2 separate regions of the Homo sapiens genome follow, and region 2 is linked to region 1. A link means that fine-mapping ties the variant in region 1 to the expression of a gene that starts in the linked region. Tissue or cell type: whole blood. Region 1 holds a variant in brackets; the other region holds the start of a gene. All regions are shown on one strand. Distances are from middle to middle.

Region 1 (8,189 bases):
TTTCTTTCAAAGAACAAAGGAGGGACCTCAAGAGAAATAAGACTCAATGACAGAGATTGCTGAGGGGCTTGGTTTCCCCCGTAGAGAGAAATGAGCCTTCTGGCAAGGCCAGGTCTCTGCCTCGTTGTGCCTTCCACCTCAGGGTCAGGAAGCTACAGTCGAAAACACATTATCTATGGCTTTGCATTATTTCTCCGAAAGTTTAGTAAAGTTCTTTTTGAAAAGTTTCTACTCTCTCCCAGTGGACACTAAAGGGAAGGGACTTTATCCACAGCCAGGACAAGATAAATCAGCCATACAGCGAATCTAGACACCGGACACAGGAAGCAGTGACTCCTAAGATGGAGCTCTGGAGAAAGCAGAGGGGTAGCAGTTGGGCTGACACTGAATTAAGGATGAGCTGAGCAACACTTCTGGTTCTGCCTTTAACTTTCACAAATCATCTTTTGGGTTTGCTTTTGTCAAGGTAACTGATGTTTAACTGATAAAGTTACAATAAAGAAGCAGAATATCAAATCCCTTGCTGAGGCAAGGGACGTAAGAAGTAGAAGGAGACATAAGTGTTAGGAGGAATATTAATAATAGCATGAAATCCAGTTCCTTTTTGTGATTTCTATCAGCTTAGAACTGCTGACAGTAAAGAAAGCAGCGTACCTCTGAAATGACTTTGCAGATCGAGCTTCTTAATTCATTCTACTACCCCTAATTGCTTTCTCTAACACGGTGATAGGCCCCTACAGGAGTTTTAAATATTTTGTGCTTCAATAGCAAGAAAATGTGCCATGTAGTTTATAGACATTAGTGTGGCTACTTTCTTCTTCACTGTATTTTGAAATTTGAACACAACAGAGTTTTCAGAGTAGTATTAGATCCCCAAGCAAGTCTCTTGTAAGTGAGGTTTTCATTTTCCCCTTCCTGAAGCTTCCTTTCTTTTATTATAAAGGTCAGCATTGAGGCTTTCCCAGTTAACTGATGAAGACATCCAGCAACATGGAACACCTTGGTTATTTAACCCTTGACCCTCTCCAGCAGAAATTCCTGATTAGCTTCAGCCTGGACAGTCTCATCACACCTCCCTGAACACATGTTGCTTATTTGTTATCTGTACCTTGGTTCAAGTTCTCCCTCCTATTTTGAGTGTTGTGTCCTTTCCCTCCCTTCCTTCTATCCAGCTTACTCCCACACTTCAGGGGAAATGACACCTCCTCCATTGTGTCTTACTCACTGGCTCCTACCCACATGTACCTCCTTTTCTGAACTCTTATTCCATGAGTGGCCCTATGTCTTAGCACTTAATCTCCTATAAACCATGCTAATAAAATGGATGTGGTGCTCCTGGCTAAATGTATCCAGTCAGACTTGGCTGTACTTCCTTCTGGCCAGAGGAATGAAATGCCTTGTGGTAACAATTCATCTTACAGAATACAGTTTTCTGTTATTTAACTCACAGCAGACTGGGATTCTAGAGGGCAGCAACTCTGGCTCATTCTTCTCTGTAGCCTCCTTGGTATCCAGCACAGGCTGGATACTCACCTAGAAGCAGTCATTGAATTCATTTGGAATCTAAGAAACCTCGACATAGTCTAAACAGCTTTAGTGCAATTGAATGAACATGTAGAAAGTAAGTGAAGTCACTGTGATCCACAGCGTGGTCAGGACTTAATTCTGGAATAGGAGGTTTCACGGATAGACCACCATGGTGTTCAAACAACATGGGTGTATTGGTGGCAACCATGTCTCAGCTGGGGATGGCAAAGTGGGTAGAGAGAGATGAAGCCTGGTGAGGGTAGAAATGTGGTTGCTGGCTGCCTACTCACTTGGGTTGTACCTTCACAAGAACTAGTGCTTAGGAAACTCCTGAACAGGGATAATAAGTCTGTTTGTCTTGGATGCCAACACGAATTGATTTATGTTGACTGCCTGAAGCACTCTGTTGAAAAGAATTGAAAAATACCATATGGGATCAGTGGAACAGAACGCCATAATTAACCTGCAATGTGGCATTGGCATGTCTATGTGCTGACCCTGACCTTGATGCTATGAAGTAATAGAAAAATCCAAGACGGGTCTCTGCCCACGGAGATTTACAATCCGACTGGGGAAATAATATATTCATCATATAATTAGTGAACAAAATATTAGAGTGCTAAATTGTGGAACAGAGATGATGTTAAAGTGACATGTAAAATGTAAAATTTATGGCAGAATAATCAAATAAATGCAAGGGGAAGAGTAGATGAATGTGGGCTGAAAAGGTCAGGAAAAATTTGTGTAGGAAAAAGGCCTAAGCTGAGCCCTTCTCAGAGGAATGAGGTTGAGGGAGGGATGGGTGAAGGGAGAGAAATAATGATACTCCCATTGAGGAACTGTGTAGGGAGCAATAGGAAAGAGTGCCAGTAGGAAGGGATATGATTTGACAAGAGACAGGGTGAGAGGACTTAGCTTCTTTTAATAACTGGATGTGAACCCCATTGCCCTGATGTCCCAGCTTTACCCAAGCAGGAGAGAAGGGTAGGAACAGAGTCCCTTGTCCTTTGCCCTTGCCAAAGGTGCTGTGCTGCCTGTGGTGGCTCCATCCATGAAGAGGTGGAGCCACAAGGAAGGGCCCAGATCCCCAGAGAGAATGTGTGGTTGCTCTTGTGTATCTGGGTGAGCCCAAGGTAGAACATTTCTCTGAGAGGGGCCTGGACAGAAAAACCCACTAGAAGTGGGTAGGAGATGATTAAGCAAAAGAGTGTTCCTTCTGCAGCCTGGAAGGAGATGAAGCCCCTTCAGAGAAGGACATCAGTAATTGGACACCCAGAGGGCATCATACTCAACATTCAGGGCTTATCATTTGTGTATATATACATAAAATTGTATTTTTATTTTCACAGATTGGACACAATGAGGATGCCAATAAGCATATATGATCTATGTTTTCATAGGGAAAGTTTGAGATGTAGAGAGTTTAAATGCTTTATGGATTACAGGGTTTGTTATAGAAGAGTCCTCAAATACAGGCATGAGTTCATTACACAATAAAATATGCACTGAATCTTGTCTCTCCACTTTTTATCAACAGACAGGAAGTTTCCTTAGTAGTTAAAAGCCTGTTCTCTGAAGCCAGACTGTCTGGGTTTGAATCCTGTTTCTATCACTGCAAGATATCTAACCACACCATGCCTCAGTTCCTCATCTGTGGAATGTAGTGTCTACATCACAGGGGTGCTGTAAGGCTTAAAATGGAAAATGCTCAGAAAAGAACTTCACACATTGTAAGTACTAGAGTGTTAGCTATTATTTGTGACTGGAGGAAGTAAAGGAAGAAAAGAGAGGGCATGAATATATGTCTTCATATTGCATCTTTGAAACTAACTGTTCCTGTTTTGGAAACTAAGTCATTAAATAGTCCAGAAATAGTCTACAACCTGAAGATTCTCTAACTGAACACATTGTGCTATTTATTTCCAAGATAGGTGCAGAGTTCAGGGATAGAAAAGAGAAAGATCTTTTGATAACATTCACTGGTAAAGTGAGAACTCCCTAATAGCCAGAAAATAAATGGATAAAATGCTACATGTCTCAAAATTTGAAAATGTGGATTTTTTTGGTCCCAATTTTTCACTTTCCCATGGATGCTAAAGGCAATAGACCTGCTCCTAGCAAAAACTACCATGAGGAGCTAATTTTATTTTAAATTAATTTTCATAACAGTGTATTCTTCAGGAAAGTAGAAACCATATAGTTCATTGCTTAGTTCAATTACCTAATATGACACAAGTCCTGCATAGAAGACAGTCATTTGTCCACAAAAAGGGATCTTAAAAATCCATTATAAATTTGACAGAAAAAAAAGAACAAATTTCTTTAAGACTTACATGAGGAAATATTCTAGCTGGGTAGAATTTCTCTTGTCGAAAACAAAGACAAATTGGAAAGGCTGCCATTTAAGGATAAATCATTAAGAGGCTTTCAAGATGATTACCATATATATATATTTTTTGAGATGGAGTTTTACTTTTGTCGCCCAGCTGGTGTGTAATGGAGCTTTCTCAGCTCACTGCAGCCTCCACCTCCTGGGTTGAAGCGATTCTCCTGCCTCAGCTTCCTGAGTAGCTGGAAGTACAGGCGCCTGCCACCACGCCCAGCTAATTTTTGTATTTTTAGTAGAGGTGGTGTTTTACCATGTTGGTCAGGCTGGTCTTGAACTCCTGACCTCAGGTGATCCACCCGCCTTGGCCTCCCAAAGGGCTGGGATTATAGGCGTGAGCCACCGTGCCC[G/A]GCAGCCATATTTCTAAATTGATTATCTACCTCTGAACAGATGGATTTATGTTATGTAATATTTTAATATAACCTTTAATTAAATTATCCCTAGCAGGTGATATTTTTAAATAAAGTTAATTAGTATTTTAGCAATTCAATCATGTACAACTTGTTTTTACCAATGTTATTTCCTAGTTTTCTTGAGGAGCAACAGGAAAAGGAACCCTAAACAATTGAAAGGGTAAGCTCAAGGTGTGACGCTGATTTACATTCATGAAAATGAGTTGAAAAATGTGGTACCTTTGGGTCTTGTGCTGGGCTTAGCTGAACCCCAGGACACTGACAAACAGAGTTGCTGTCTAGTTGTTTCTAACTATACTCAGCCTTTGCCAAGTTTTGGCCAGGCTAATGGAATCTTGTGGACACACAGGGTACAACATGTAGGAATCTCGGGGCCCCTTTTTCTTTTGTGTAGACACTTTCAAAGGTAGCCACAGCACACAGCAGGACTGAGACAGCTTGGAGTCTTGCTTTGTTCCCAGCAGAGGGACTTTCCTTTGGTAACGCTCCCAGGTCAGAGCTTAACTCTTCACCAACTGGAAAGCTGGTTGTGTTTCTTCTTTTGTTTGCTTTTTTTCTTCTTCTTTCATTCCCACTCCTTACCCCAAACATATTCCTGAGGAAATTATGATCCTTCAGGTTGTTTTACAAAGTTAACCTCTCAGGAGACTCTGCAAAACATGCAAAAGGGATATCATACTTTTTTGCTTAATTTTCACCTTTAGAATTTAAAACCGATGAACTGTAAATCCTTTTAGGGGAAAATTTAAATAACACTTATTTTATGTATATTTGGAAGCACAGGGTAATTTTTTAAGGAAGAAGGGGAAAAATTAATGAAGGTGTAAGAGGGAATCACAAAGACAAATTAAAAAGTTTTTAAGTATACCATAGTTAAGCAGCATGCCTGATTCCACATATGTGGTTTATATGTGCACATTGGGTCAGATGATGTCATTCAATCTCAAAAGCTGCATAAAATAGAAGCCTGATGTACCCTATTTATCCAATCAGAAAGTACATATCTTTCTCACATTCTATTGGGTAATGACATTGCACTGTATTTAAAAGAGACTTTAGGCCAGGCGCAGTGGCTCACGTCTGTAATCCCAGCACTCTGGGAGGCCGAGGTGGGCGGATCACTTGAGGTCAGGAGTTTGAGACCAGACTGGCCAACATGGTGAAACCTCATCTCAACTAAAATTACAAAAATTAGCTAGGTGCAGTAGTGGGCGCCTGTAATCCCAGCTACTTGGTAGGCTGAGACAGGAGAATCCCTTGAACCCAGGAGGCAGAGGTTACAATGAGCTGAGATCATGCCACTACACTCCAGCCTGGGTGACAGAGCGAGACTCTGTCTCAAAATTAATAAAAATAAAAAAATAAAAATAAATAAAAGAGACTTTAGAGGACCAATGATTTTAGACAACCAATAAAGGATTAGTCATGCTGGTTGCTTTGCTGATCAGTTCTTCTTAGTCAAAATGGTCAAATAAGTGTAAATGTGGCTTTGTGTAATGCATCTTCCTTCCCTGGAAACAGTCATTATAAGAATGCTCAAGATCCTGCCACAGCTATCTAACCAGGGTTTATGCACAAGGCACAGAGTTTGGCTCTAAAGAGCATGGTGCGTGCATGACTTTGGTGACTCACAGTCGGGGGTAGATCTAATGGATGAATGTAAGGATGGGCAATTTAAGCCATTGTGCCAACATGGCATATGGAATGATTCTGAGAGAGTGTGATAGGGCCAACCCAAGGCAGAGCTCTAGCCGAGAGGGTGTGTTTGTCTTTAGAGCCCCGACTTTCTTGATGCTGTCTTCTGTATCATCTGGCTATCAACTTAACCCTGCATGTAATTAGCCTGTGATAATGGAGTCAGAAGATAAATGGCTTAAAAGGGTCTTGGCACAGTTTATTTCATCGTAAAGGAGAACACCTGACAGTGGGCAGAATCTTACCCCCTTCATGCGAGGAAGAAAAATCAACCATTGGCAATCCAAAAATGTCTGATTGTGCACTGCTAGGTGTGTGTTCCTGTGGGAGTTACCTGGGGGTTACAGAAAAGTACAAGGTACAGCTCTGCCCTCCTGGAACTTACAACTTAGGTGTGGACAAAAACACCACATTGAAGCTGTAACACTTAGTACAGAGCCACATGAGGGAAATGTAAACTAAATAGCACAGGCCATAAGTGCCAAAGGAGTGGTGACGAAATGATGGTTTCTCACAGCTGCTTAACGGGATGAGATCAAAATAGGGATCAACTGATTATCATCGCAGGAGGAAAAAAAAACCGAAACCATAATTCAAACATTTCATGGACACTAGAGAAAAAAATATAAAGAACTATGGGGAGTGTAATAATTGTCTATTTTGTCAATCTTTCAATAGGATTCTTTTTTTTTTCTTTTAAAATAGAAATGTTTTAACTACCTTGACAGACTAAACTTACATGGGCATTTGAACATGGAGGAAAAGAAGTAAGAGTGTTTGGGGTTAAAACATCAATATGAAATGTATTACAAAAAGAAGATTCTTTTATGAAAGGCTTCTAAAGTTGTCTTACATTTCTTAAATCAATCTGTAGCACATAATCAGTAAAACCGTGTCATTTAAACAGAAGATCATAACTTAGAAACTCACCCTTATGCATCTGTATCCTATTATGGGCTGTAACTTAACACATGAGTTTCAGAAGTTGTTAAAATTGAGTTCAGACTAACAAATCTTAACTGTTAAAAACAACAGCAACCACCACCAAAGACCTCTGGTGAGATGGGAGAGCAGTCAATGAAGAGGTCCCAGATTTGATCTCACAGGATAGGTGTCTATCATATTTATTTTGATCTGTTAAATCTTACTTTTCTATGAGAAATAAATGTACTAGGACAGATAAAGCCATAAAGTGATCAAGAAGCTACCTATTTTTTCCAGTTTGAAAACCTGTCTTCTAGGGTTGAGACTTTTATACATTTAACTTTAAACTCTGTCAAATGTATATTTACTGAAAAAAAAAAAGAACCAGCTCTTATGCCATTGATAGCTGTACTAAAATTTATATTTCTTCCTTAGTATAAATTCAAATAAAAATAATTAGGCCCTATGATAAATAAAGTAAAATTAGCATTTGAATAGGCTTCAGTCAAACAGACATCCATAGTTTAGATGCTAAAATTAGCAGAGTTCAAATTACTGTAATTAAGATGCACTCATTATTTTAAAATAAGCTAGCAAGCACTATAGGGTTTATTTTTGTTTGGCTTTTTTTTGTGGTTTTAAACTGTATTTTTTCAGGGGTGGTGGAATGCAATGCAATATGTATAGGGATTTTACTGCACAAGAATCTTCAGCCTTTACATCCTACTCCATTCCTTTCTGTGAAATGTGAAAACTATAAATTTATTGATTTCACATAACTGTACTAAAAAGCATGGGGTGGATAAAGTACTTGACTCCTGAGGATTCTTGCTCTCTCATGCTGCATATAGCTAGATTCATGATTACTAAGATGTTTTTAATAGCCCTGTAGTCTGGTCCAGTTTTTCCAAAGGGCAAAAAACGTACTCTTTGAAGTAAAGTATTCACCTATCTGATATAAATAAAACCTTTCATGCAGAAAAATGTTCTCCCAAATGGAAGAGTTAATGCACCTCAAATATGTGAGAAATTTGCTTCCAATTTTTCAACGCTTAGTAAAGGATCCATCTTACTTTTTCATTATAAAATTTGGGAAAAAATCTCAGTGAAATCTTACATGTCACTTCATAAGTCAATGCTAGAAACCAACTCATTCTCATGGCTACAGTGACAATTAAGATACTTTTTAAACAATCTTTTTGAGAAAGTTTGCCCTGATTTTGGCCTTCAGTCAGTGAAAGTGG
Region 2 (8,189 bases), 60 kb before region 1:
CTGCCTTGGCCTCCCAAAGTGCTGGGATGACAAGCGTGAGCCACTACTTCTGGCCTTCATTGCTTAACCATAACTATCTCAAGCATATTTCAGGTACAATTCTCTACCCTTCCTTACCCTTCCTCTTTCTCCAGGATCAAGTCTGAGTCTCTAACATTGCCTCTTCAGCCTCATTAACTTGACAAAGTTCTGTTGGTTTTGTTAATTCTAGAAGCTTCCCTCTCTCCAAGCAAAGTCCATGTTTTCAGCCTCTTACCTATTCTGCAAATCAGCATATATCTCCAGGGAAAAAACAGCCCAACAACAATTCACCTCTCCATGATCTACTGTCTCTTCTGCACCAACCCCCTCCCCACTCTTGGGCTCTCTAGCTTCAGCAACTCTCCCAAGCCTCTAAAACACACATACACATAATTTTTTAAACTCAGTTTTCTAGTTGTTCTCAGGGCTGATCTGTGGGAAACAACTCTATTATACCCAGAAGTAGAAGTCTGACAATAGCTTTGTTAAATCAAGCTTAGCCTAAAGCTGCCTCCTTACATATTTTAAGTTTGGCTTAAAGGTTTCTCTGAACATCATGAATTATAACCTGATAGAAGAAAAACTTCAGCCGAATTACATTTGAAAGAGTTTAATTGAAAAATGAACGATTCAAGAATCAGGCAGCCTCCCAAGACAGAGTAGGCTCAGAGATTCCAGCACAGCCACGTGCTGAAAGAAGATTTATGGACAAGTGGGGTACAGAAAACGGAAGCGAGGTACAGAAACAGCTGGATTGGTAAAAGCTCAGCATTTGCTTTATTTGAACATGGTTCGAACAGTTGGCTACATTTGATTCATCAAAACTTAGTAATTGGCACAAGTGTAGACTATGGCCTGTTTACACCTCCACTTGTCATAGTTCATGATGTACAGAGAAACCTTTAGGCCGAACTTAAAATATGTAAGGAGGCAGCTTTAGGCTAAACTTGATTTAACAAACCTAAATGGAATTGTAAACAGACTGTAACCTGCTCTTGTGCCAATCACCAAGTTTTGGCCAATCAAGCGTGGCCAACTGTTTGAACCGTGTTCAAATAAGACAAACGCCAAGTTGTGACTAATCCAGCTGTTTCTGTGCCTCGCTTCCATTTCTGTACGTCACTTTCCCTTTTCTGTCCATAAATCTTCTTTCACCACGTGGCTGTGCTGGAGTCTCTGAGTCTACTCTGGCTCAGGAGGCTGCCTGATTCGCGAATCATTCTTTGCTCAATTAAACTCTTTCAAATTTAATTGGCTAGAGTTTTTTTTTTTAGCAGCTTTTAAAATATTTTACTAGATTGTATTTATGGTTAACAGTATCTTGCACTACAATTTATATTTAGATAATCATTCATTTTAAAATTATTTATTGAGCACCTACTATGTGTTAGGTATTAGGTACAGAGCAATGAATACAGCAAGCACAGTTCCTCACCTCGTGGACCTGACACTGTAGTGTGAGAGATAATAAGCAAATGATATAAGGCCATGCAGTAGTTAAATGCTATGAAGAAACATAAAATCTGGTACAGGGACAGAGAGTAGGGAGGGAGCTCTTGTTATAAAGGGTGGCCAGGAAAGACCAAGTTGTGTAGCAGAGGCCTGAAGGAAGCCAGGGACCAAGCCATATGAATTTTCTCAGATAGGTGTATTCTAGTTATAGAGAACAGCAACTGGAACGGTCCTGAGAAGGGAACATTCCTGGAACATTCAAGAACTAGCCAAGAGATCAGCAAGTCTATAGTAAAAAGAAACATAGTAGATAGTCATCTAGTGTTTTCTTCTCTTCCTTCCTATTATCTCTCATACCATGTCATGTTACTTTTCTAAAGGATCTCAATGGGGAAGAGAACATCATTGTCTTTAAGATTCAATTTTTTGTGTATTGAAAGTCTTCATGGTCATTCTTTTGAGATCATGACCTACTACAACGTCCCCAGGCCTGCATCCTCCACAGGTGAGGTTTCTTTGCTTGGCTTCAGCAGCCTTTCAGACAGCTGCTCATGCATTATGTATTTATAGAGGACTGACCACGTCCAGGCACGATTTGCTGAGCTAGGTTTACAGAACCAGGCTGCTTGTATTAGAATTGAAATGCTTAGCATTTTCAGGAGTCACTTTTTTCCCCCTGTAGTGCATAAATACGGTATATCTTTATACTACCAGTTTCCCATTTAAAAAGTATTATTATTGTTATTAAGTATTAACCATTTGTCTAGTATCATGGAGTAGAAAAGAGGCACAAAAGAAGTTTGTATTGTGCCTGTGGGAGTTTCACCTCAAAGCGGGAATCCCAACTTGAGCCAAAGTTAAGTTTGCACCGACATTCAGTCACCATCTGGGGGATTTGGGAGGGAAAACGAGTGTCTTCTGTAGTGGAAAAGGCATGTTAGTATGGAGCTTTGGTCCAAAGTCAACAGATCAGTGTTAAAGAGGGAGAAGTTTAATACTCAGCCCTTGTGGACTCATGTCCTTGGGAGAAAGACTTCAAAAAACATTCCGTAAAAACCAGAGAAGCTGTTTCCTGGATATCTGCTAAGGCAGCTAGAGCTTAGGTCAGCACAGCTTTGCAGCCTGAGTGTCAGACAGCAGCTCTGGGGCTACTGCCTGAACAGGAAAGTGGGCAAACCTCATCCTGAATTGAGAAGATGTGGGAGTAGACCTCATCCCTTGATGGTCTTAGTTTCCTGGCAATGGCAGGAGCAGCTGCGATTTTGGCAGGCTTGGCCACCAGTGGTGGCATTTATACAGACAGGAGGCAGGGAAATACCGGGTAGAAGAGGGAGGTTCCCTCCCAAAGGCCCCACCCTCAAGCCTGGAAACCCATGACTTTAAATGGGAATAGGCATTCTTGTTTTTGCACCCAAATGTTGCCTTTTGGCCCACCATGTCCACCCCCCATCTTGTACCAATATAAACCCCAAATTGCAGGCTCCATGAGCAGAAAAGCAGACGAATAGAAGAGCAGAGGAACAGAAGAATAGCAGTGTGGCCGAGCAGCGTGGTAGAGAAAGAGGGAAGAGAAGCAGCATCTGAATGTTGAGAGGAGTTTGGCTGGGGACAGTCGGAGAGGAGATTGGCCGCAGGACGACCCAACTCCAGGGGAGGAACATCTTCCTACTCCATTCGCTTCCCCACTCCCCAGCCATTCCACTGAGAGCCACCTCCATCTGGCAATAAAATCTCTTGCATTCACTATCCTTCAATTTGCCTGTGTGACCTGATTCTTCCTGGATGCTGGACAAGAACCCAGCATCCAGGTACCAAGAGGGCACTGGGCTGGATAACACTTGAGCTGTCTGTGGACGGCAGAGCTAAAAGAGCACTGTAACATGCCCACTGGGGCTTTGGGAGTTGCAGGCACCCACCCTGGATGCTACTACCATGGGGCTGGAGCCCAAAAGTGTTTGCCCCGCCTCCTGCACCTGCCCGTCTGCATGCTCCCCCTCCAGTAAGGGGTTTGAGTGCACAGAGGCTGAACAGATGAGCCACACCCCTGTCACACATCCTGTGAAGGGGGTTAGGAAACTCTCCCATTTCATCTTGACCATCTTTGAGGGACTATTGATGCTTTTGGTATCAGCAGCCACAGAATTCATCAGACACAGCACAAAAGAGCAGGAGAAGAGATAATGGCAGATGCCAGAAGGTAAGAAGGAATTCGCCTGTGAGCAAGTGTGAGCTGTGCCCTGGGGGTATCTTAAGTGCGGGAGAAATTCGAGAGAGTTGGAACTTCTAGAAGTGGGAAGTGAAGGACAGAGCCAGAGAATGATACTGTTGTGGTCATTGTGATATTATTTTTATCCCCAAGATGTGGTATCTGGAGTGAGGTACAGAATATAAAGCCTAACCCTAGGCGGGCGCGCGTGGCTCACGCCTGTAATCCCAGCACTTTGGGAGGCTGAGGTGGGCGGATCACGAGGTCAGGAGATGGAGACCATCCTGGCTAACACGGTGAAACCCCGTCTCTACTGAAAATACAAAAAATGCCCCGGGCGTGGTGGCGGGCGCCTGTAGTCCCAGCTACTCCGGAGGCTGAGGCAGGAGAATGGCGTGAACCCCGGAGGCGGAGCTTGCAGTGAGCCGAGACCGAGCCACTGCACTCCAGCCTGGGTGACAGAGCAAGACTCTGTCTCAAAAAAAAAAAAAGAAAAAAGCCTAATCCTACATATACGACTAAGGAGATAGAGTATCTTGAATTTAGACAAGGCGATTAAGTCTCTATCATGGACTGAATGTTTGTGTCCCCTCAAAATCCATATGTTGAAGCCCTACACTCAATGTTATGCTATGAGGAGGTAGGCCTTTTGAGGGGTAAATTAGATTGAGCTGAGGGCATGAGCATGGAGCTTCCATGGTGGGATTACTTGCCCTTATAAGAAGAGCAAGAGACGCCGGAGCTTCCTCTCTCCACCTAGAAGGTGACCATTTGCAAGCCAGGAAGAGAGCCCTCACTAAAACCCAAATCTACTGGCACCTTCATCTTAGACTTCCCCACCTCCAGAACTTTGAGAAAATAAATTTCTGTTGTTTAAGCCACTCAGCCTAACCAGTACATGACCAATGATCTTCCTCTAGTTTAGCAGCAAATATTAAATATTTTCATTCACCTATTCATTTATTTCATTCAACCAGTATTTCTGAAACACCTATCCTGTGCTGTGAAGTACTGATAATGGATTAGGTACTGAGCTAGGAGATGGAGATTTTTGTTTTCATGGGCTCCCATTTTGTAGAGCAGAGATGCATGAGCCAGCACCCCTGAAATATTTGTTATTTCCTGAAGCTCCATGCTGTCTTCCAACTCCATGTCTTTGCACAGTTGTTCCCATTGGTACACTTTTCTTAACCTGCCCCACCCAACAGTCTATCTTGAAAGTTCCTGTTTATCTTTCAAGACTCGGCTCAGGTATTACTTCCTTCCCTAATTCTTCCTAGACATGCCTTTTCTGCGTTTATATTGAAAAACTAAGCCTTAGAAAATTTAAACAACTTACCCAAGGTTATATAACCATTAAGTTTAAGAGCAGGAATGCAATCCCAGGTAAGTATGGCTTTACCTTGGCTCCTGTGTAGACTAACATAACACGGAGTTATATAATCGAGAGAACACACTGGGCTGGGAGCCAAATGCCAGATCTATTTCATGTCATCTATGTGACATTGGGTAAGTCATGTAAAATTCTCAAGCCTCAGTTTTTTTAAATCTAAAAAACAGGGATGAGAAAGTTATCTCACAGGATAGTTGTGAGAATTAAAATATGACATTTAATTAGAAATCATGTAGCAAAGTGCTTAGCTCAATGAATATTTATTAGGAAAAGATATTTTAGTCTTCTTAGGCCTGATCATATAGGCCCATGAAGCTCTTGTGTTTGTGTAAAACACTTTCTTTCTCTTGTGTGCGTGCTTCAAATGCTCACTCGTTAGTCAACAGCAGCTCCTGGGTAATTGTCTTGAGGATCTGAGGTTAGATCAGTAGCTTTCTAGCTAAAAATGTCTCCCGGAGGAGCAGAAGCATATTTCCATATCGGCTTCTAAGTCTCCTATGTTTTTGATTACAGCTGTGTGAAATGAATGGAAAAAGACTGAAATGATTAAGTAACTCTGCTGCTCTCCATTGGTGATGGGGAGTGAATTTGACAGGAGACGAGCAGACAAAGTCCTAGGATTCCAAAGAATTTTAATGGGCAACTGAATGTTAATAATTGTCAGAGCAAGACTCAGATGATCACATCAAATCCTCACAGGCATCTTATGTTATTTCCTCTACATCTTACACAAGTGGGAGACAACTAATAACATGGCCCGTGTACCATGATGCAGCCCAGAACTATGAATTTGACGAGGACATGGTTGATGATATTCCTTCTCTAAATACGATCCTCAGACCAGAAGCATCAGTGTCACTTGGGAAGTTGTTAGAAATACATTTTAAGGGCCCCACTCCAGACCTACTGCACCACAGGCTATGTTTCTAAAAGATCCCCAGGTGATTCTCAGCTTTATTAAAGTCAAAAAAGTACTGAATTAACCATTGATGACAAAGCATTTGTGCTCAGATCTACACAATGGCAATAGACAGTTTTAACTTCCTTGCTGTGTGTCTCTGGGCAAACTACTTAACCTCTCTGACTCTATTTTCTCATTTATAAACTAGAGATAATAGTAGTTCCTACCTCACAGGGTTTTTCAAAGTAAGTGTGCCATAAATAAATGTAAAGCCCTTAGGATAGTACTTGCTGCATAGGAAGACAGCAAAATATTCTTGTTTTACAAGTGATAATAATAGTAATAATAGATCTTAAAAGACTCATCCAAGTCACACAGTTAAAGTAGAAACAGAAAATTATAAGCCTCAAAATAATTGAAGACAGAGGCCACCAATTTTGGTTCCTGTCAATGAAGAACTTCGAAGGAGGGGAAATATTGATACAGTGGCTTTGAGTAGATCATCTCTGGGGCAGCCATGACTGACATCTTATCAGGTGGATCAGAAAAGGTCAACAAATATCTGACATACCTATTGCATACCAAAATTTAAGTTAAATTATTATTTCTTCTATCTCTTATCATCATAAACCTGAGTTTTTGTCCAAGTCTGTTTGCTAGGAAAGGCTGGCAGACTCCCAGTAAAATGGAAAGGTCTGTATTAATAATTCTAGTGACTGTTACCTTATAACTTTGGGATTAGAATAAGTTTCTGATAACAACATTTACAAGAATATTTGCCATAGATAACTCTATTTGTTCGCCTATGTTTATGAGTGGAATTTGATTTTATGCTCAAAAACTATTGATGACAATCTACTATTACAACTGTTGATGACAATCTACTATTGCATCTCTGATTTGGCTGTATACAACTGGACAAGTGTAAAATGACTCTGCAGATATCTTTAAAATTAGGAATCCAGATAAAAGCATATGCGGGTGAGGTTTTTTTGGTAAAATGTATTTTACAAGTAAAAGAAATTAAACAATTTAAAATGTACATTGTGGAATATAAATTTGTCACAATTAACAAGTGGTAGAGTGACTATGTCACAATTTAGTTGGGCAGAAGGGCAGGGGCATACCAAGGCTATGTAAAACGATTCACATTAGAACTTCTAATTGTGTGGAATTAAGAAAATTTGGCTAGGTGGAGTGGCTCATGCCCATAATCCCAGCACTTTAGAAGGCCGAGGTGGGTGGATCCCTTGAGCCCAGGAATTTGAGAACAGCCTGAGCAACATGGTGAAACCTTGTCTCTACAAAAAGTTAGCCAGGTGTTGTGGTGCATGCCTGTAGTTCCAGCTACTCAGGAGGCTGAGGTGGGAGGATTAACTAAGCCCGGGAGGCAGAGGTTGTAGTAAGCCGAAATTGCATCACTGCACTCCAGCCTGGGCCACAGAGTAAGATCCTGTCTCACAAAAAAAAAAAAATAAAATAAAATAATGAAGTAAAAGAAAAAGAAAAAATTTAAGTAGACTATGATGAAAGATAGCAAGCATTTATATTATATCATTCAATTAGAGCACCGTCTGAGTTAATGTTTTATGAGATTGCAGTTTTCAACTGTAGAGGATTACTTGATCATATTTGCTGTTTAACTTTCCTCCCTCATTAATCTATGGTTAACTGAAGTAGATTATTTGTTTTCAATTTGATCTAAATATGTCTTTTATAATCATTTCCATCTTTATAAACATAATTAATTCCTTCAAGTGTCCAGGTGGTAAATTCTCTCCTACATCTACTTCTATATATAGAGAGAGAGAGGGAGAGAGCTGGCAAGGAAAGAAAAGAGACAGTAATATATTGCTTAATGAAGGGGAGAATTCTGAGATTTTGTCATTTTGCAAACATCGTAGAGTGGACTTACACAAACCTAGGTGGTATAGCATATTGTCCCTAGGCTACAAACCTGTACAGCATGCTGTACTGAATACTATAGGCAATTGTAACACAATGGTTGGTATTTCTATATGTAAACATAGAAATGGTACAGTAAAAATATGGCGTAAAAGATAAAAACTGGTGCACCTGTGTAGGGCACGTAACATGCATGGAGGACTAGAAGATGCTTGGGGTGAGTCAGTGAGTGAGCAGTGAGTGAATGTGAAGGCCTAGGACATTACCCTACTGAATACTTTATGAACACTGTACACTTAGGCTACACTATA

Evidence for each region. PIP is the estimated chance that this variant, and not a neighbour inherited with it, causes the effect.
Region 2: LIX1-AS1 starts here. The variant in region 1 is fine-mapped to the expression of LIX1-AS1 in whole blood (TOPMed, PIP 0.95).

The regions. Positions count from the first base shown.
Region 1 is chr5:97,130,153-97,138,341 of GRCh38, forward strand. The region is part of intron 1 of LIX1 (limb and CNS expressed 1); the gene reads right to left. Among named protein-coding and RNA genes, the nearest start is that of LIX1, 8.4 kb to the right of the region's middle. The variant G/A (reference allele first, on the strand shown) is at 4,264.
Region 2 is chr5:97,070,169-97,078,357 of GRCh38, forward strand. It overlaps LIX1-AS1 (LIX1 and RIOK2 antisense RNA 1), which reads left to right and starts at 3,557. Exons shown (of 8, transcript NR_187470.1): 1 at 3,557-3,670.